3 linked regions of the Homo sapiens genome follow. The protein of the gene in region 2 interacts with the protein of the main gene of each other region in a biochemical or structural test. Each region holds a gene or a part of one and is shown on either strand. Other genes may lie near its edges. The genes, in order: ST13, BAG1 and BCL2.

Region 1 (7,110 bases), on a different chromosome or scaffold from region 2:
AGTGTAGCAACCAATTTTTTGTACATGTGTACAAATAACCATAGCACAAAGCAGATTAGAAGGTTATCAAATTAAGAGAAATGTGAATGAAGTTTTATGTGGTCCTATGTGAGAAAAGTCTCTACACTGGTCCTACTTGATTGTGTAACATAAAAAAGCCTGTAGTGCCAAAGTCTAAGTGGCAGTTTTTGGCCAGAAAGTAGCTTGTTCTAAGCCTTGGAAGCATTAATTGAAATTTCGTACCTATGAGTTGGTGTTTTCTTCCATTAGTTAACTAGAATTTGGGATGGGAGAAACTAAATCTAGCTTATGAGTAAATCCTCTTTTTTTTTTAAAGTTTTTATTTTTTTTGCAACAATTTCTAGCTCAGAAAAATTGCAGGTATGGTACAAAGGAATTTTTTCTGAACTAGTTGAGAGTAAGCTGCCAACATTATACCCCAACACCAGTGAGTGTGTACTTCCTACAAAGTCTTTACAATGCAAATACTAAACTTAGGAAACTAATGCTGATGCATTTATGCTATCTAATCCTCAGATTTATGTGTTGCATTTAGTTGCCATGTCACGTAGTCTCCATTCTGAAACAGTTCCTCAGTCTTTCCTTGACTTTCATGATCTTAACAGTTTGAATGTTATTGGCAAGTTATTTTATAGACTTTCAATTTGGGTTTGTCTGGCCTTCCCTTAGGATTGGATTTAGCTTAATACATTTCTTGGCAGGAATATCACTTCCCAAAGTTAGTGTACTGTAAGTTATACTATGTCTGGATGTCACTCTAAATACATTCCTGACGCTGCATTTTGAAACTTAGGAAGAACACAGTGTAAGAAACCCTGTGTCTTCATTAAAATTTAACTACAAAGGACTGGTGATTACTGTGCTCTTTTGCAAAGTAGTGTTTCCATAGAAAAGAATTTTGTGGTGTCTATATGCCTGTTCCTTATCATTAAATCATTTTACTTTGCTGAATTGCAGATTAGGATGTTTTGGATCATATAATCTTTATGTTTGACATGGGAGCTATTCCATATTAAGGGTACTGTGTAACATTTTCTTCTATCATATTAAACATAATGGAAAAAGTAGGCACATTTTCTTCGTTTGAATGGTGCTTATAAGAAATTCCAAATTCTGTTTCTTTTCATTCCATCTGCTACTTTGCATTTATACTTTTGCTTCATATTGGGATTCTCAGATGATACTAAGGGAGTGAAAAGGCAACCTACAGGGTGGGAGAAAATATTTGCAACACATAAAGCTGACAAAGGGTTCATATGCAGAATACAGACAACACCTTCAAATAAAGAAGGACAATCTATTAGAAAGCTGGATGAGAGTTGAACTGTACAAAAAAGTCTTTTTAAATGACCAGTAAATATATGAAAAGGGACTCAACTGCAATGAGATGCCAGTAGGCACCTATCAGAATGGCTAAAAAATCTTTAAGATGGACAATAGCTAAGCATTGGCCAAGGCGTGAAACAATTGGAATTCTCATACATTGCTGATAAAAGTGTAAATTGATAAAAGAACTTCAGAAAACTGATGCCCATTTAAATTCAGCCTGCACATACCCTTATGACCACAAATTCCACCCAACTGAAATGAATGTAAGTGTGGATATGACAACTCTAGTTACAAAGAATCAGGCCGGGCGCAGTGGTTCATGCCTGTAAATCCAGCACTTTGGGAGGCCAAGGCTGGCGGATTACGAGGTCAGGAGATCGAGACCGTTCTGGCTAACATGGTGAAACCCTGTCTCTACTAAAACAAAAAATCAGCTGGGTGTGATGGCATGCACCCTGTAGTCCCAGCTACTTGGGAGGCTGAGGCAGGAGAATCGCTTGAACCCAGGAGGTGGAGGTTGCAGTGAGCCAAGATTGTGCCACTGCACTCCAGCCTGGGTGACAGAGCAAGACTCCATCTCAAAAAAAAAAAAAAAGAACCCTTTCTGTTTTCAAAGTTAATATATCCCCTTGTTTTACATAGTTAATGGCTTTTGTTGTTTGTTTTTAAGGCAAATTTTAATAATGTCTACGTTGCTTCCAACTGTTGTGGAGTGCTCTTAAGTCTATCAACCATTTTAGTCACTGGATTGTTGCAGGTAGCCCATATACTATAGGGTCTGCACCAAATGGAGCATGTAACGCTAATTCTTTGTAATTTTTCTCTTCTAGTTATTTGCTTATAATGAATTGTGTTGCCCTGAACTATTTGGGAAAGAAGAGTTTGTAGGGTCAGGAGGAAGTATTAATGGATGAGGTTGGGAGGGGTGTATAAGGAGAAAATCTATAATGTGATGGGCATGCAAATATAAGCAAGAAAAATTCTCATAGGTCTCAGTCACAGGACACAAACATTTTGAATTATATCATGACGGTATAGTTACTTCATAAACTGCATATTTGAATTTAATTGAACTCTTATTTCAAGTTTCAAATTTAGGATTCAGATATACCTACTGAGTTGAATTCTAAGTTAACAGCTTGTGCAAATGATTTTGTCATTGCATGTTGACATATCTGCCTCTTTTCCTCTGGGAAGAGGCACAGAGAAGCTATACATTATGTTTATTTGACTCATTGAGGCAAAGAAAGGGGTTCATTAGCCAGTAGCCTTAAAATAAATTTTAAGCTGGAAAAAATTTAACCATAATAATACCACAGCATTCAGATTAATTGAGAGTTTACTTTTAAATTTTGAAAAGGTAGTCATCTAAATGTCTAACGTTATTTTTTAGGTGTAAATACGTTGCGTGACAGTGAATTTTAATTTTCTAAACAAATATCTTTTTTCTCATCTTCTTCAAGCATGGGTGGTAAAGTACCACCTGCTACTCAGAAAGCTAAATCAGAAGAAAATACCAAGGTAAGTTTTAATTTCATTTGTATGTTTTGTGATAAAGTACTATAAGATTTCTTAGGGGTTGTTTTTAAACTGCTGCTCTCCAGTTATCACTCCTGATTTCCCCAAGATCACTTGGAAATAAGACCTTTTAAGACCTCTTTATCTTTATAACTTTGTAGACCCGAATTCTCTGGATTCTGATTTAGAACTGAGAATTTAGGGTTGGATGTTCACTGTTTTAGAATACATGACAATAAAAGTTACATGTATGGCCTGTAAGTGGTAAGCTCCGTGATGGTGTGCATCCGTAGTCTTCATCATTGCCTTACAGTGTGTCATATGCATTGTAGGTACTTTATTTATTATTTGCAGAGTAAATGAAGTATCCCAGGTCAGTAATTTAATTTTTTTGCTCTACTACCTGAGTGATATTTGTGAGTGTGAATCATGGTGTTGGGTTAGCATATTTGCTTAAAGGACGTGTAAGATTAGGAGAAGGTTACCAGTAGCTGAAGTTGAGAGACAGATGAAGGGGAACATACATGTTTAAGAATGTTTTCTTTTATTTGTTTGTTTTTTCTTTCCTGAGACAAAGTCTCACTGTGTCACCCAGGTCTGAGTGCACTGGTACAATCTCGGCTCACTGCAACCTCAGCCTACTGGCTTCAAGCGATTCTCCTGTTTCAGTCTCCCGAGTATCTGGGATTACAGGTGCATCCCACCATGCCTGGCTAATTTTTCTATTTTTAGTAGAAATGGGGTTTCGCCATGTTGGCCAGGTGGGTCTCGAACTCCTGACCTCAACTGATCTCTCAGCCTCCCAAGGTGCTGGGACTAAGGCGTGAGCCACCATGCCTGGCCCAGAATGCTTTCTTCATAATTTTTTATTTCTCTCTTCTGCCTTCATATCTAAAAGGCTTTTTTTTTTTTTGCAAATTTTCTGATTAGCTGTCTTAAATCGACAAGAAAATAGCTGTTTTATTATTTAGAAACTTAAACATTGTTATCTATTTGGATCTTAAAGTGGAAGTTATGTCTATTAAGAAGGAGAATGCGAAAAGGTAAGCAAAAGCCCAAAAAGTAGTTACCTTTTTTTTAAAAGGACCATTTATCAGAGTGGTATTTTCTGAGCCCTAGATATTTTGCTATTTGGCAAATGTGTATGAAGGCAAAATTATATTTAACCTATGTGTCAGCTGAAAATTTTTTGTAAGAAAAACATTCTAAACTAGAATTATGGCTTGTCTTTTCTTTTCAATATATTCTAGAATACCTAGACTTTGCACATTTTATAGGGACTCAACAAATATTTTGTGACAAGGTAGGTTTTTGGTTCTAATTTTTTTTTTTTTTTTTTTTTTTTTGAGACAGAGTCTCACTCTGTTGCCCAGGCTGGAGTGCAGTGGTGCGATCTCTTGGCTCATTGCAAGCTCTGCCTCCCAGGTTCACGCCCTTCTCCTGCCTCAGCTTCCTGAGTAGCTGGGACTACAGGTGCCCACCACCACGTCCGGCTAATTTTTTTGTGTTTTTAGTGGAGAAGGGGTTTCACCATGTTAGCCAGGATGGTCTCAATCTCCTGACCTCGTGATCCACCCACCTCGGACTCCCAAAGTGCTGGAATTACAGGCATGAGCCACTGCGCCCTGCCTTGGTTCTAATTTTTTAAGTAACAGGGAAGCAACCTAAAAATGGTTAACAATATATGGTTGAGTGAATAGATGAAGGTAGGCTGATAATGGTATATAATTTACAAGATACACAGCGTTGTTAAATGCAAAAGGCAAAGGATAGAGTTGTTTCATATATAGAGAGACTATCCTGCAATGGGATATACAAGAAACCACACTGGTTATTTATAGGATGGGAAGAAAGTGTTGCTTTCTATATGTCGTGCACTTTTAAATTCTTTGAATTTTCATTGTTTATTATTGTAATTCCACAGGTTCTTATTTGCAGTTCCAAAACTCAAAAACCCTTGTAAAGATTTTTACTAAATTTGGCAATAAAATATAATGTGAGTGGACATGAGGCTATTTATAATCTCTAAACTGTTTATTGTCAATGTTCAAACTTTATTTTGAACAGTTGTTTTTTTATTTTTGAGACACAGTCTTGCTCTGTCGCCCAGGCTGGAGTGCAGTGGCATGATCTCAGCTCACTGCCACCTCCGCCTCCCAGGTTCAAGTGATTGTCCTGCCTCAGCCTCCCAAGTGGCTGGGATTACAAGCGGGCACCACCACGTCCGGCTAATTTGTATTTTTAGTAGAGATGGTTTCACCGTGTTGGCCAGGCTAGTCTTGAACTCCTAACCTCAAATGATCCACCCACCCCAGCCTCCCAAAGTGCTGGAATTCCAGGCATGAGCCGCCATGCCTGGCCATATTTGACAGTTTATACATAGATTTGTAGAAATTAGTATAAATATTCGGTATGTTATTAAATACTGATAGTACTGTTTGTCTTCCCTTTGCTAGGAAGAAAAACCTGATAGTAAGAAGGTGGAGGAAGACTTAAAGGCAGACGAACCATCAAGTGAGGAAAGTGATCTAGGTGAGGAGACGGTAGTTAGTTTGTATTTGAAAACCTATGATGTGATACTTTGTTGATTTTTATTAAAGTGACTTAAATCAGCACTGTGTAATAGAAATATAATGGCACATATGAAACTTAGAATGTTCTAGTAGTCACATTTTAGAAAGTAAAAGGAAACATGAAATAAATTCAGATATTAATGGCATATTGGTTGAAATATTGACATGTGTAATCAATATTTTTTTTTGTTTTTTTGTTCTTTTTGAGATGGAGTCGTGCTCTTGTCACCCAGACTGGAGTGCACTGGCACAATCTCGGCTCACTGCAACCTCCACCTCCCAGGTTTAAGCCATTCTCCTGCCTGAGCCTCCCGAGTAACTGGGATTAGAGGAACCTGCCACCACACTCGGCTAATTTTTATAATTTTAGTAAAGACGGGCTTTCACCATGTTGGCAAGGCTGGCCTCGAACTCCTGACCTCGTGATCCACCCACCTTGGCCTCCCAAAGTGCTGAGATTACAGGCGTGAGCCACTGCACCTGGCCTCAATATTTGTTAATAATTTATTTTGCTTCTTTTTTTAATAGCATTCAAACTCCAAAGGGTATTTTACACATGTGGCACCCCTCAATTCAGGTTTTACATTTTCATTGATAATAAATCAGACTTCATAATGTTTGTATTAGAAAAAGTTGGGTTACATATTAAAGTTGTTCTAAGCATACTTAAAAAGTTTTCTTTTTTTTTTTTTTTTTCTTTTTTTGAGACGGAGTCTCACTGTGTCGCCCAGGCTGGAGTGCAGCAGTGTGATCTCAGCTCACTGCAGCCTCCACCTCCCAGGTTCAATCAATTCTCATGCCTCAGCCTCCCTAGTAGCTGGGACTACAGGCGTGTGCCACCAGGCACGGCTAATTTTTGTATTTTTTTTTTTTTGTAGAGACAGGGTTTTGCCATGTTGCCATGTTGGTCAGGCTGGTCTTGAACTCCTGATCTCAGGTGATCCACCTGCCTTGGCCTCCAAAGTGTTTGGGATTACAGATGTGAGCCACCATGCCCAGCCAAAAGTTTTCCCATAACTGAATTGAGTGCCAAAAAATAGTATTTGTTTAGTTCTTACAACCATGTTGATAAAACTGGTTCATATTTAGAAGAGTAGTTATCTGTGCTATGAGTTTGGTTGGTTTTTTGGCCACAAATTGACTAAATTTCTTCATGAATTTGGAAGTCTCTTATATCACAGAACCTGAAGAAAAGTACTTGAAATGTTTTAAATTTTGAATCAGTTTTTTTTTGTTGTTTTTTTGGGGTTTTTTTGGAAGACTTGAGTTTCGCTCTGCCACCCAGGCTGGAGTGTGGTGGCACAGTTTCGGCTCACTGCAACCTCTCCCTCCTGGGTTCAAGCGAGTCTCCTGCCTCAGCCTCCTGAGTAGCTGGGACTACAGGCGTATGCCACCATGCCTGGCTAATTTTTTTGTATTTTCAGGAGAGACAGAGTTTCACCATGTTGGCCAGGCTGGTCTCAAACTCCTGACCTCGGGTGATCTGCCCGTCTTGGCCTCCCAGAGTTCTGGGATTACAGGTGTGAGCCACCACGCCTGGCCTGAATCAAATTATCTTTGATATCATTAGAGGTCTTACATTCTACTGGCAGTTGTTTGAGTGCTAAATTGAAGATCTTTTACTTTTTATAAAATGCCTCTTTAGTCTTACTTTCTACCAGTTTCTAAA
Region 2 (7,121 bases):
TTTTTATAACAAAAAAGGTTACTTAAAACTAGCAATGCCACCAATTAAGAAGGTAAATCATTTCACCACACCCTCACCAGTCTAGGCATTACAATTTCTTTTTCCAATTTGATCTAATCTAAAAGGAGGAAGATGGCATCTGGTATCTTATAAAAAGTCATTTTAATATAGGAAGAGAGACACTGACAATCTTTCTGGCTCCTCGATAGCTAATTATACCTGACCTCTATAACCCTGCAGAGGATCTCATCAGCTGAACAGTCTACAGAGGTAGGCACCAAAGATACTAGTTAGCTTCTGCTCAAAATTGGGACATAGTCACCTAAAACAAATTAAGGATCTTTAAATTTATTCTGGTGGGAGGGAACAAACATTTAGGATTCCTAACTTCACAAACAAAAACAAAAAAGGTACACTCTAAAATAAATAATAGGAAAACCAAACCCTACAGATCTGGTCAGTCCAAAACAGTAGTCACTAACCATATAAGGCTACTTAAATTATTTAAATTGAATAAAATTTAAACTTCATTTCCTTAGTCACACTAGCCACATTTCAAGTGCTCAATAGCCACATGTTGCTAATAGCTACTGTATTGAACACACAGATATAGAGCATCTCCATCATGGCAAAAAGTTCTATTTAGATGGAAGTTGTTACAACAGATAACAACCCAGCTAACTGTATTTAATTACACGTCAATGAAAATTTGTAATTAAATCAAGAGTGCTTAGAAAATAGTATGAAAACCTGAAGGAATGGAAGACCATTTCTCTTTTAGTTAAACCTGCTAGAGGTAGAAATTGTGTGTGTAACTTACATCCTCTTTTGCTTTAAAACTCGCAAGGCTTTCTGCTTGACCATATTCTGGAGAGAAAAACAGATTTAATAAAAATAAGGTGGAAAACACATATACGGTAAAAGAAATTTCCCATAGCCTCAAACTCACATGCCTACTTCCTCTCTTCTTCAAAGTAGTAGGCATAATGGCTCCTGGATTCTGTACTTCCCCTCCCAAAAACAGGTATCTCTAAGGTCCAGTCTTTAAGCCTTTGCTCCTATCTGTCTTTGCATCCCACATCCCAGAGTCCTCAACTACTTTCTCTTTTCCTAATGCATATTATCTCTGCCTCTAGCCCCAAAAGTGCTGAGTCTGTATATCCAGTTGCCTTAGGGAGATTCTTCACTTGTACAGCCCATCAACTTAACCTCAACAATTCCAAACTCCTGAACCTTATCTCACCTTTGAAATAAGTAACAATGGCCCACCAATCTCTCACCTCTCTAGGTTGAAAACCTTTTTATCAACCTTATCTTTCCTCTTTCTGTTGTTTCTTCATGCACAGTCATCCTGTTAGCTGATTTCAGAACTCACTTTCAAACTGATTCTTTGGTTTCCTACCACCATGGTTTGGGCTTTCATTGTCTCAAATCTAAATGGGCTTTCCTACCTCTGGTTGCTCTTCATTCCACACCATCCACTAAGATGGCTGGGAAAAGCCTTCCTTTTCTATAGAATTCTGTAGATCATTTTATTTGTCTTCTCCAGTGAGGAAGGAAAAACAGGTATTATTACTTCACAGATGATCATAACTCATATTTACTGAGTACTACTTTATCCTAGACATAGTGGTACACAGGTCACATCAATTACCTCATTTAATCCTCATACTGTAAGGTGGGTATTATCTCTGTTTTACAGATGGGGAAAGAGAGGTTCAGTGATACCCAGGCTCACATGGTTAATAAGTTATGGATCTGGAAAAAACAAGGTAGTTCTATATCCACAGTCCATGTGCTTAAACACAGTATTTTATGTTTCTACCTAACAGGAGTGGAAAATAAGTGACTTTATCAAGGTCACAACTAGAAGGCAGTGACAGTGTATTAGAACACTGGTCCCAGATGCCTAGTTCAGTTTTTCCCAGCAGGCCACTCCTTAAGCAGTCTAATATACCAACCTAACCTGACCAGCTTAGCAAGTCATTGATCTTGAGCACAGCCTAGTCTTCCTCTCCAGATTACCACCTTCTCAGTATAATATGCTAATTCTCATGTACATGCTTTTAGACGTGTGACCAGCATCTCTTTCCACCAGATCAATCCCCAGCCTCCCTTCCATATTTGATTGCAAACTCTCCTCCCTAAAGGATACACCCTCACATGTTTTCTCCTTACCAGACTGTAAGCATCTCTTCTGTAGGGATGCTCACAGCCCCTGCACTAGGTCCTATTTCACTTATTTTTTGAGACGGAGTCTCACACTGTCACTTGGGCTAGAGTGCTATGGTGTGGTCTCTGCTCACTGCAACCTCCGCCTCCCAGGTTCAAGCGATTCTCCTGCCTCAGCCTCCTGAGTAGCTGGGATTACAGGCGCCTGCCACCATGCCCAGCTAAGTTTTTGTATTTTCAGTAGAGACAGGGTTTCGCTATGTTGGCCAGGCTAGTCTCAAATGCCTGACCTCGTGATCCACCCGCCTCAGCCTCCCAAAGTGCTGGGATTACATGCATGAGCCACTGCGCCCAGCCGAACTAGGCCCTATTTCTATAGGTGCTAAAACTAGGCTCTGCCAGCACCTTGTGCAGCAGTTGCTGCCCACCTTACCTTTGCAGGACCCTCTCTCATCTTCTTGATCTGATCCTTATACTTCACTAGCTCAGCATCCAATCGAGAAATCTTCTTGTCAATGGATTCTGCTCTACTGTCCACCTTAGGGGAAAATATCAAATGCACTGGTAGTTACTGCAATACACTTATTCCAGAAGGGGCAGGTAGAGAGGAAGGAATACAGAGGAAGAAAAGAGGAGCTTAAGGGGAAGGGTGAAAAACAGTGGTTCACAAAGAAGGGTATTCCCAACCAGAAACCCTGGGCTTTATAAATTATTCTCTTACCCCCCGCCACACTGCCCCGATTCTGATATACCAGGTAGCCTTCAAGTGGGTTGGGGCAGAAAATAATTTGAGAATCACTGAGTTGAGTTGGAATTTCCCTAGAATCAGAGACTAGCCAGGCTGAGAGTTCCTCCAAGAGGCACATGAAATGGGCCAGTGCCAAGTGAAACCAGCTGATTGTAGATCTAATGCCATTCCCTAAATCGGGGATGGTGGCTTAATCTGAGGGGCTAGGGTTCTGAGTTTTGTGTTACTGAGATCCAGGACGAAGGCACAGATATGTTGACCTAGGATATCAAGCTGAGTCCTGATGTGGACTGGGGATGACAGATGGAAGAAGGGTAAGGGATCAGGCAGGATGAGGTGGGAAGGGTGTATGGGCCTAGGGCTGGGTGAGGTGAGAGGATCAAGGCGAGAGCGAGTGGACGGGCAATGGGCATCAAAACGGGTTGGGTGCTGGCAGGGCAAGGCAGTGATGGGGTTAGGGGTTCCCTGGTTTGTGGCGTTAGGAATGACTTGGGTAACAGGGATGAAGGGGAGAAGGTGAGATAGAGAGGGACGACGTGTAAGGGGCCCAGGACCCGAAATGAAGTGGAAGAATATGGGCCCGGGGCTGGGGGTGGGCGGGGTCGGGTGTGTCAGAGGTCCTGAGCCTACTTATGCATGATCAAATGCCCACCGTGCCAATGCAGTCAGTCAGGCTGGGCGGCGGAGCCTTGGGTTTCGCTTTCCCGAAGAGTCGGTTCATCTTGAGCAGCCGCGAAGAAACCCAAACACTAGAGCAAAACCAGAAACGGAAGCAGAGTCACTCCCGCCTCGACTTCCGGCCCCTCCGTGCGCAAGCGCAATATGCCTCCTGGCGTTTCCCGATTCTTTTTCCGGATTTTCAGCCGGGTCTTCCGGGGATGGAGAGCAAAAGGACTTGGTGCTCTCGGAGAGAGCCTGCAGGGGGCGGGGTGTTGGTAGAAGGAGTGGGAGGGGTTTTACTGTAGCAAGGCGGGGCCTCAGTTGAGTGGGTGGGGCCTGGAGGCAACTAACGCGGCATAGGGCGAGGGCGGGGCCGGCAGGCCGGGGCGGGGCTGGGAAGTAGTCGGGCGGGGTTGTGAGACGCCGCGCTCAGCTTCCATCGCTGGGCGGTCAACAAGTGCGGGCCTGGCTCAGCGCGGGGGGGCGCGGAGACCGCGAGGCGACCGGGAGCGGCTGGGTTCCCGGCTGCGCGCCCTTCGGCCAGGCCGGGAGCCGCGCCAGTCGGAGCCCCCGGCCCAGCGTGGTCCGCCTCCCTCTGGGCGTCCACCTGCCCGGAGTACTGCCAGCGGGCATGACCGACCCACCAGGGGCGCCGCCGCCGGCGCTCGCAGGCCGCGGATGAAGAAGAAAACCCGGCGCCGCTCGACCCGGAGCGAGGAGTTGACCCGGAGCGAGGAGTTGACCCTGAGTGAGGAAGCGACCTGGAGTGAAGAGGCGACCCAGAGTGAGGAGGCGACCCAGGGCGAAGAGATGAATCGGAGCCAGGAGGTGACCCGGGACGAGGAGTCGACCCGGAGCGAGGAGGTGACCAGGGAGGAAATGGCGGCAGCTGGGCTCACCGTGACTGTCACCCACAGTGAGTGTCGGGCGCCAGGTGGGCTCCATGCAGGTCCCGAAAGCCCGGCGGGGTCTGTGGGTTTAGTCACGTGTCCTCCAGAAGCGTGTGACCTTGCGCTTGTCCTGGCGTCCGGAAGCGTGGGTTATTGGTTGTGTCCGTGGAACTGTCTTTTGTCCCGGGCTTGTGTCTGTACACTTTTCCATGTGGCCGGTGTATTTTGTCTCTGGTCATTTGTGCGATCCTGGGTGTTTGAGCTTCTCCGTGCTTTACGTCGTGGGCCTGGTTGTGTTTGTGTGCCCGCGCAGTTATTGTGCCCTTTGTGTCAGGCATATATTGGGCCATGTGGTCTACGACTGCTCCGTGTGTGATAAGTCAGAACTTCGTGCATGCCGGGGTGCTCCTCGTGTGCTGAGTGCCTTCTCCGTGTGCGCCGCTTGAGTTGGCCGTGGGTCCAAGCGTTGTACTCTGGGCACCCTTTGGGTCTGCCTACTGTTGGAGTTGACACACCACCAAATGAAGTCAGTACACCGGAGAGCTGAGTCCATGAGGTTTCTCTAGAACCAGCTAGGGGAGGCCCAAGGGTCTGGGAATCTGGAGACCTGGATTCTAGATCCTGCGGTTTTGAGTGACCTTGGGATGGACGGCTTCTTCTAAGAATCCGGTTTCTCCTCTGTGAAGTAGATTTGGTAACCCTGGCTCCTGCTGACCTCACGGAGCTGTTGGGGGAACCAAACCTTGGTGTAATGTACTGTACACAGGCTCCCTCCTTGCTGTCCGCATCCCTGGAAAAGAATTGGCGTCTCTTCTTCAGAAAGAAAGGCTCTGCTGTTCGTATGCATTTGTCTGTTTACTTAGCACAAATCATGGATGCACTCAAGTGTGTTCAGTGGGAGAGACTTGGAGGAAAACAGTCACTTGCCCATTACAGCAAGCGAGACGAGACCAATACAATACAGGGTACAGGGCAGTCAAGCCACAGGAAGCAGATGGCTTGTGATGAAAAAGGTGGGCTTGGGAATCAGCTAGATCTGATATCAACTTCTGATTCCAACAGTTGAGTCTCCATAGGCAGTCCTTAACTTGCCTGAAGTCACAGTTTGCTCATCTGTGAAATAAGAAGTAATAGGTAGATCTACTTCGTGGGGTTTATCTGAGGATTAAATTAGATTATGCATGAAATGCTTAAAATGTTAGCAGATATCATTCATATTGTTAGTTATTATAATAGAGGAAACAGAGATACTTGAGGAGGTCACCAGAGGAAAGCTGGGTGGCATGGGGGCAGGCTCTGTGGAGTAGGTGGCATATGAGCTGGGCCTTGAAGGCTGGGTAAATAAATGTGATAAAGTGTCATCCTATATTGGTGTATGTGAAAGAATCATATTCGTCAAATGCTTTTCTTTCTCCCCAGGCAATGAGAAGCACGACCTTCATGTTACCTCCCAGCAGGGCAGCAGTGAACCAGTTGTCCAAGACCTGGCCCAGGTTGTTGAAGAGGTCATAGGGGTTCCACAGTCTTTTCAGAAACTCATATTTAAGGGTAAGCATTTCTTTTTCTTTCTTTCTTTTTCTTTTTTTTTTTTTGAGACGAAGTTTCACTCTTGTCGCCCAGGCTGGAGTGCAATGGCACGATCTAGGCTCACTGCAACCTCCGCCTCCCGGATTCAAGTGATTCTCCTGCCTCAGCCTCTCAAGTAGCTGGGATTACAGGTGCATACCACCATGCCCGGCTAATTTTTGTATTTTTAGTAGAGACAGGGTTTCACCATGTTGGCCAGGCTGGTCTCGAACTCCTGATCTCAGGTGATCCACCCGCCTCGGCCTCCCAAAGTGCTGGGATTACAGGTGTGAGCCACTGCACCTGGCCAAGGGTAAGCATTTCTTTTCCGGCTTTTCCTTATGGCCAAAGGACAGTTTTAAAACTGCTGAACTTTTCCTAATAGTCACTCTGTTTTCAAACTGGGACAATTTTTATTTATTTGTTTATTCATTCAGTTCTTCAACAGATATTTATTGAGGACCTGCTAGGTATTGGACACTCTCAAACACCTGGACAGGTGTCAGATTTGAAGTCTTATGATGATGGCAGAAATCTCACCATTTTCGATGAAGCTCATGGGCAGTCTTCCCTCGCTAGGTTAGATCATCTTCCCATTATATGTTACCATGGTACTCCCTGCTATTTTTGCATCACTTCTATGAAATTACTATTAAATAATCATTTTCTTAGTTGCTTAACATCTGATTTCTCTGTTAAAATAACAGCCTCCGTGAGGGTGGAGATACTGCTGTGTTTCCAGTGCCTCCCATTGTTCTGACTCAAAGGAGGTTTTGAGCAAACTTACCTGAGGCCTGGATGTGGCGGGCTCAGTGGATGCATGATGCTCATTTCTGCCAGGACCCACACCCTCCTGGCCCCTGCCCTCTGTCTTCCCACCCCCCTGAGAATCTATCATTCTGGTATCCACTGGGGAAAGACTTACCCCATTGGGTGTCAGTCATTATAAAGAATTTAGTAATAGGAGGCATTTTTATTTATATTTCATAGTGTAACATATTGTCTTTAATTTTTAAAAATATTTTATTTCTGAATTATAAAGACAATAGAAATTCATGTTTCAAAATAGAGGAATGCATGAAAAA
Region 3 (7,110 bases), on a different chromosome or scaffold from region 2:
CTTCCTGATGCGGAAGTCACCGAAATGTTCACTTCCTCAAGTTCCAGAGGATTCTGTTTCTTACTCAGACAGAGCCAGTATTGGGAGTTGGGGGGTGCGTATCCAAAATATATGAATATACACAATCAGGGCTTAAGGTACTGGATGATATTGTATAAATTGCTAAAATGCTTTTCTCGGCACAATTGGTAGCTTAAAAAAATACTTTCCTATGATTTAAGGGCATTTTTCCCATCGCTGTCCTTCGGCGTGGAAATCTCAGTGGGTACTAGGTCCATCTGAAGTTCCCAACTCTTTTCCTCCCACCAGGTATGCATCATGTGAGTCATATGCAAAGAGTCTCTTCTTCAGGCCAGGGAGGCATGGACTTCCCCCCACAGGAACCCTCCCTCTGTTAATATCACAGCCCCCAGGGCAAAGAAATGCAAGTGAATGAACACCTTCTCCCCAGCCTCCAGCAGCCAGAAAGCCAGCTTCCCCAATGATCAGGTCCTTTTTCCATCCGTCTGCTCTTCAGATGGTGATCCGGCCAACAACATGGAAAGCGAATCTATGTTTACAGGCACAGAACATCCAGGTGGAGCCACACGAAGCGGTGCTTGGCAATTAGTGGTCGGATTTCCAAAGACAGGAGTTTTGATGGGACTGTCTTAAATAAATAAATCTTTTTTTCTTAATAATGTAAAAAATAAATGATATTTCCCTTTGGCAGTAAATAGCTGATTCGACGTTTTGCCTGAAGACTGTTAATTGTTGTGTGTGTGTGTGTCTGTCTGTGTGTGTGATGTTTATATGTGTGTTATTTTTTCTTAAACAGCCTGCAGCTTTGTTTCATGGTACATCACTGACAATGCATATTATTTCTACTGCTTTAGTGAACCTTTTGCATATTTGTTTGGGGCAGGCATGTTGACTTCACTTGTGGCCCAGATAGGCACCCAGGGTGATGCAAGCTCCCACCAGGGCCAAACTGAGCAGAGTCTTCAGAGACAGCCAGGAGAAATCAAACAGAGGCCGCATGCTGGGGCCGTACAGTTCCACAAAGGCATCCTGCAGTTGGGGGAGAGGAGGGAAGAAAAAGAAAGAGTATTAGAGAGAGAGCAGAGAATGCCACCCCACAGAGAAAGAGGCATCCTGCCAGGGCAGCCTGGGCACCTTCAGAAGGGTGAGAGGGGAAAAGGCAAATGCTCTTTGGAGGCCATGATTCAGAAACCACTGTTTTCATTAATTCAAGGCATATTTATTGAGACCCTCTTTACGTGCCAGCCATCTTAGAGATACAGCAGTGCATAAAATAGACTAAAAGTTCCTACTTCACGAAGCTTCCATTGAGTGGAACAGTATAGACAGCAATCAATATAAATTATCACATGGTGTAGGAGAGAGTGCTAAGGGCCGAGGAGAAAAACAGCAGAGGCAGTTAGAAAATATTAGAGGTTTTGCAATTTTAGCTAGCATGCCCATCCATAAAAGTAATAAAATCTAGCAATGATGATGACCGTCACACTCCTCGATTGAGTGTTGACATCTTATCAAATGTCTGACATGCATTATTTTAGTCTTTGTACCAAACTTTTTCTTTCTTTTTTTTTTTTTAGAGACAAGAGTCTTGCTCTGTTGCCCAGGCTGCAGTGCAGTGGTGCAATCATGACCCACTGCAGCCTCGAACTGTTGGACTCAAGAGTGATCCTCCTGCCTCCGCCTCCTGAGTACCTAGGATTACCATGCTTGGCTAATTTTTAAATTTTTTGTAGAGATAGGGTCTTACTATACTTTCCAGGCTGGTCTTGAACTCCTGGGCTCAAGTGAGTCTCCTGCCTCAGCCTCCCAAAGTTCTGGGATTAAAGGCATGCGCTTTCTCATCCAGCTAATTCTTTGTACCAATCTTATGAAGTTATTTTATTTGTTTCTGTTCTGAAGATGAAAAAGCTGAGAATCGCAGGGAATAAGAGACTTTTTAACAAGTGGCAGAGCCAGGCTTTGAACCCAGATAGAAACCAGCACCCTTCTCTCTGCTGATGCCCTGGCGTGGCTAACGGCAGCTCTATGAGAGCATTTGGTCAGTCAAGGGCTCAGTCAGTGGAGGGGCCAAGGGCGGCCTTGACTGGTGCAGTGCCAACCTCTAAGGTCAAGGTTCTCCTGGGGAAAGGGAGCTGTCAGGGGGTTTCTCTTGGGGGTGGCTAGACTGGACGACCACAACTCTGCATTTACTCAAATTGTGGATCTCACAAGGCAGGAGATCAGGGGTGTGTCACTGGATGTGCAGGTCCCTGAGAGACAAAAAGTGTCTCCCTTCCATTCCTATCTCTCCATCTCAAGTCGGGTCTGTAGTGTGTTGTAGCAAAGTCTACCCTCTGGATGGGCTTGGATTGAGCAAATCACCAATTGCTCATTTCCTAGATTTTGGGGAGATTATGTTTCACATTTGGGTCCAATGAGTATTTGGACAACTTTCTGAATGAATATTTGAATATATAAATCAGTAAATGAATTCTTTTTACTTCTGATTTATTCAGGATGAAGAAGAAAACAAGAATAGTTTCACATTATTCCCAACAACCCTGACTCAAAGCACACAGTTTTATTACAGGAAACAGTAACATACCATGACCCTGGACATCGCTGTTGGGAGGGGCTCCAACAGTGCACAGAGGGGTTCCCTTTCTCTGGGGCAAGGGCTGTAGCAGTGGGACCAGGGATTCTCTTTGTCTCCCTCATGCTGGGCATGGTTGTGGTGCACTATAGGTGCGTAGTAAATGTTTGTTCACTTAAGCTTTCTGAATACAATCATTGGTCTTTGGCTTAATGCTTTACCCAAATGCTTATGAATCTGTTTGAAATTACTCCTTCTATATGTAACAGCCTCTGAGAATCCTGAGGTAGTCTTGATGAGGATTTAAAGCATTGTTAGGGTAACTTTCCACATTATTAAATATAGATTTATACAATTATTTTCATGATATATAAAATGTGCCATACTTTAAAAAATTCATGTTTATAGTGTTTAAAACTTTTGCTATTATAAACAATATCATGATATATTTTTGTATATAAATTCTTGTCTATTTGTTCAGTTGCTTTTTTGAAACAAACTCCTAGAAGTGACCTCAGTTAACCAGTCATCAATATTGCTTCCAGACATCATGAAGGGCTTGCCTTGAGCCATCCTCACATTCTCATGGATTGCCCTCCAACCAATGCCACCTTTTACAAAAGGCAGGCAAGAATTTAGGGCGAGGGTCACACTGAGAGTGATCCTGTCCCCCAGGGGACATTTGGCAATGTTTGGAAGCATTTTTAGTGGTCATGATTTGGGGTGAGGGTGCTACTGGTATCTAGTGGGCAGAGGCCGCGGATGCTGTTCAACATCCCACAATGCACAGGGCAGCCCCCCAATGCTAACAGGGCCGAGGCTGAGAAACTCTGGTTTATAAGATGCTCTGTAATCACAGACCATAGAAGAACAGATGACCCATCCTGTGTGTCAACAGCATTGGTCAAATCAGCACAATCAGCTAGCCCAGACCAGCGACTGCTAACCCAGTGGGCCTTCTGCATCTTTGGAGGTCCTTGGTTAACTTTTACCAGGAGAGGGCGCAAGGGCTTTCTTCTTCTTTTTAAATATCTATTGTTAAACATTTCTAAATTTCAGTGTTAGAAAAGCGAGGCAATAGACGTACATAAAATGTGTGTTTAGTGCTCTTAGCACAGAGCTAAGGCACAATCATGATTGTCTGCCAAGATGCACACCCCTCTCCATATAAGCAGGGATCAGTGGGGCAGGAAGGAGTCAGGACTTCTCCACAAGCCAGAACTCTGCCTCTTCCAGGGAGCAACCCAAGACATCACAGACACGGCTGCAAATGTCAACTAGTCCTCCCATCCATGCTTCTCTCTCTGAGGGATGGGTAGGCTGAAACCCCCAATAGCCCAGCCAAAAGACACCCCAAATTTGTCAGGGCACTGGCAATAGGTTGTCTGCAATTTGGCTTGACATTGAGAAGGTCAGTGGCCGGGCTCTGAATCCCTTTAGTAATCAACAGAGTTTTGTGTGGCAAAATCTGAACCAGACTAAGCCCCTGATCATTTGTCCTGTCTGGACCTGAAGCCATCCTGGGAAACCGGAGGATGCAGGGACATACTCCAGCTGGCATTTTCTCCCAGTTGGTCTGGCACACAGTGCTGGAGAGCAGAAGAAATGCTGTCCCAAATATCCCCACCTCCTCAGAGCTGGAATAATTCCCTCTCACCACCCTCACCCCCACACAAATAACAGTGCTTCTCATGAACCTAACAGGCCATTTCTGATATGCATTACGTAGAACAATGTCATTTCTAGAGTGAGATGAGCTAAACTAGCAGCTCTTGGCCCAAAGCCTCAGCATAGAGATGCTGTTGCCATCCCAGGGGGCTGAGAAGGGCATGGGACTTGGAGGAGGAGTGTGGGTGAACCCTGGCTTTGATATTTTATTAGTTTATAACCTTCAGCAGATAACCCAGCCCCGAGCCTCATTTACTTCATCCATAGCCATAAAATTCATTATTGTGAAGATTAACGTAGGTCACTCAAAGCCATTTGTAAATTGGATACAGAAAGTGAGCTCGTGGCAGAACAAACACCTTGCTCTTGTCTGTCCTCTTGCAGACCTGCTCCGCACCTACTCAACCTGCCCTTCCCCCAAGAAGTTCTGCTGAGCCTGCCGTTTTGCAGAAGCAATTTCCTCTCTTAGCTTTCTGATCTGAGGATAGTCCGTAATTTCTATAGGAATTATGAATTAAAATGTATACATCCCGTGTTCTGGTCAAAGATGGGAAGTGATAATACAATGCCTACCTATCTGTCCTTCTTTACACATTATTAGAGTGTAGGGCTAGAGGGCAAGTCATTTAACCCCCTGGAGGTTGGAGCTGGCCTCTAAACTTTGCCCTTCTACAATTCCAAAGTGCAAAGGAGACCCTGCGGCTTCGGGACTAAAATGACCTGAAAGCTTCTTTCGTAGAAAGTCTTCCTGATTTTTCAAACATCCTGATTGGGGCGATTTCCGAAGTCTGTTTGAACAGTCTGTCATTATTTGTTTGAGTTTGAAAGCTGTTTTAAATAAACACATGCTCATTTTATGTATTAAAAGCAACAAAGAGGGAAAAAGAAAACCTGGGTCGTCATGTGATTCGGACAAAATCCCAGTCTATATATTTAGGAAGCTCTGTGTCCCTTGCTCATGTCAGGACTGGCAAGGGCTTACCCGACTTCACGGATCACAGGTTCACACGGAAAGGCTGGCACCGGCTCCTCCTATGAGGAGGAGATGGGCAGGGCCTCAGCTCTGGTGGCTCTGTCCACAGTGGCTTCCCCATAAATTTCCAATTCAGAGGCCACAGAGGATCTGAGTTCCACCCAGGGCTGGCCCAAGGGGACAGGATGGCTAAACTCCCAGCCGCAGCCTTGCTGCAGGTTTGGAACCAGGCCAGGTAGGTGTGGACGGGAACAGACCAGGGTCAAGACTCCTAAACTCAGCAAAGGTGTCCTCACCCCTCCGGGCCATGGAGCACTCCCACCTGGGAGGCAGCCATCCTCCAACATTTTCCTTTTCCGTTCAGAACCTTCAAGAATTTTTTTTTTTTTTTTTTTTTGAGATGGAGCCACTGTCACTCAGGCTGGAGTGCAGTGGCTCCCAGGTTCAAGCAATTCTTCTGCCTCAGCCTCCCGTGTAACTGGGACTACAGGTACCCTCTACTACGCCCGGCTAATTTTTGTATTTTTAGTAGAGAAAGGGTTTCATGTTGGCCAGGCTGGATTCAAACTCCTGGCCTCAAGTGATCCTCCCACCTTGGCCTCCCAAAGTGCTGGGATTACAGGCATGAGCCACCACCCCTGGTCCACTTCGAGAAATTTCACGTAAACCTAAAATGAGAATTTTTTTTAAAAAAGGTCAGATTGTCAAGAATGGAAGAGAAGGTTAATTCTAAGTGCTGAAAAGAATGGCATGCGGTTGGGGATATGGGCGGGGGTCCCAAAATAACCCTTATGCCCAGGTAAAGGTAAACATGGAGACCTTTTGAATTTGGTAATGCATATCAAAAGGCTTTTAAAAAGCTTTTGTTAGTAATTTCACTTCCAGTTATTTATTTTGGAAAAATAATAAAGTGCACAGATTATGTATAATAGCATAAACCTGGAAACAAATGTCTGAAAATAGATGACTGACAGCGCGTCCACATGATGGAGTGCTGTTCAGCATTAAAAGTCATACCCTATAGTTATTGGCAAGAAATTGTGTTCCTAAGGTCATATTGAGTAAAGCAGGACAAAACGGTCAGCAAAACACGATTCCACTTCTGTAAAAACCTAACATATACATGTGCGCGTTTACAAACAGAAAAAAATAATATAAAGGAAAACGCAAAGATGTTAACAGTGATTATCGTTGAAGGCAGAAGTAGGCATGAGGACATGGCATTTAAGAGGCTATTCTGATTTTTTTCCTTAGCTGTCTTTTCTAATTCAATACAAACATGTATATTACTATTTATGAAATATATTTCAATATATACTACATAGAATAATGTTACATTCTAAGTGCTTACTTAATCTGAAAAAAATCCAGACTCCATAATTTGACAGACAAAAATGCTGGGAGATGATGTCTAGTAGTGGGGAGACATGGGCTCCCAGGCAGCAGCCATGACCTAGAACCATGCAACAGGCCCCCGGTTAAGTGAGGGCCTCCTTAGACCCTGGCCCAGAAGAACTCTCATGAGCTCTGCCCCTCAGACCAATGCCTGCAATAAGAGGTTCAGGCCCCGAGCTCAGTGTGTGTTCTCAGCTCTCTATATACTGGGGAAATTTAATATGGCTTGGCTGGCTATAAGCAAATTCGAAATTCAGCTACATTCCACAGTCTTTGAGCTGACTATGCATGCAGACGTTATACAATCGAAGGGAATTCTAAGGGAGAAAAGCCACCCTGTCCCCAAAGAGCTTACACTCTAGAGAGAGGTAATGCCTCTATGTGCACATTTGAACTAAACTAAATCAATGGGTGCCGCCATTTTGTTCCTGCAGACTGCAGAGTCTCATCGGCAGTAAGAAGAAAGTAAAAAGAAAATCAG

The links.
Region 1: the proteins of BAG1 (region 2) and ST13 interact in a biophysical measurement, tested with the Homo sapiens proteins (one study listed by IntAct).
Region 3: the proteins of BAG1 (region 2) and BCL2 form a complex in vitro, tested with the Homo sapiens proteins (one study listed by BioGRID).

The regions. Positions count from the first base shown.
Region 1 is NC_000022.11:40,846,584-40,853,693, reverse strand, and holds part of ST13 (hsc70-interacting protein), read left to right. Parts: intron 1-2,813; coding exon 2,814-2,871; intron 2,872-5,324; coding exon 5,325-5,400; intron 5,401-7,110. UniProt on the Homo sapiens protein: One HIP oligomer binds the ATPase domains of at least two HSC70 molecules dependent on activation of the HSC70 ATPase by HSP40. Stabilizes the ADP state of HSC70 that has a high affinity for substrate protein.
Region 2 is NC_000009.12:33,261,599-33,268,719, reverse strand, and holds the start of BAG1 (BAG family molecular chaperone regulator 1), read left to right. Parts: upstream 1-4,011; 5' UTR 4,012-4,045; coding exon 4,046-4,496; intron 4,497-5,889; coding exon 5,890-6,018; intron 6,019-7,121. Other genes in the region: CHMP5 (charged multivesicular body protein 5), read right to left, coding at 821-867, 2,606-2,710, 3,573-3,641. UniProt on the Homo sapiens protein: Co-chaperone for HSP70 and HSC70 chaperone proteins. Acts as a nucleotide-exchange factor (NEF) promoting the release of ADP from the HSP70 and HSC70 proteins thereby triggering client/substrate protein release.
Region 3 is NC_000018.10:63,127,710-63,134,819, forward strand, and holds part of BCL2 (apoptosis regulator Bcl-2), read right to left. Parts: intron 1,051-7,110; coding exon 916-1,050; 3' UTR 1-915. UniProt on the Homo sapiens protein: Suppresses apoptosis in a variety of cell systems including factor-dependent lymphohematopoietic and neural cells. Regulates cell death by controlling the mitochondrial membrane permeability. Appears to function in a feedback loop system with caspases.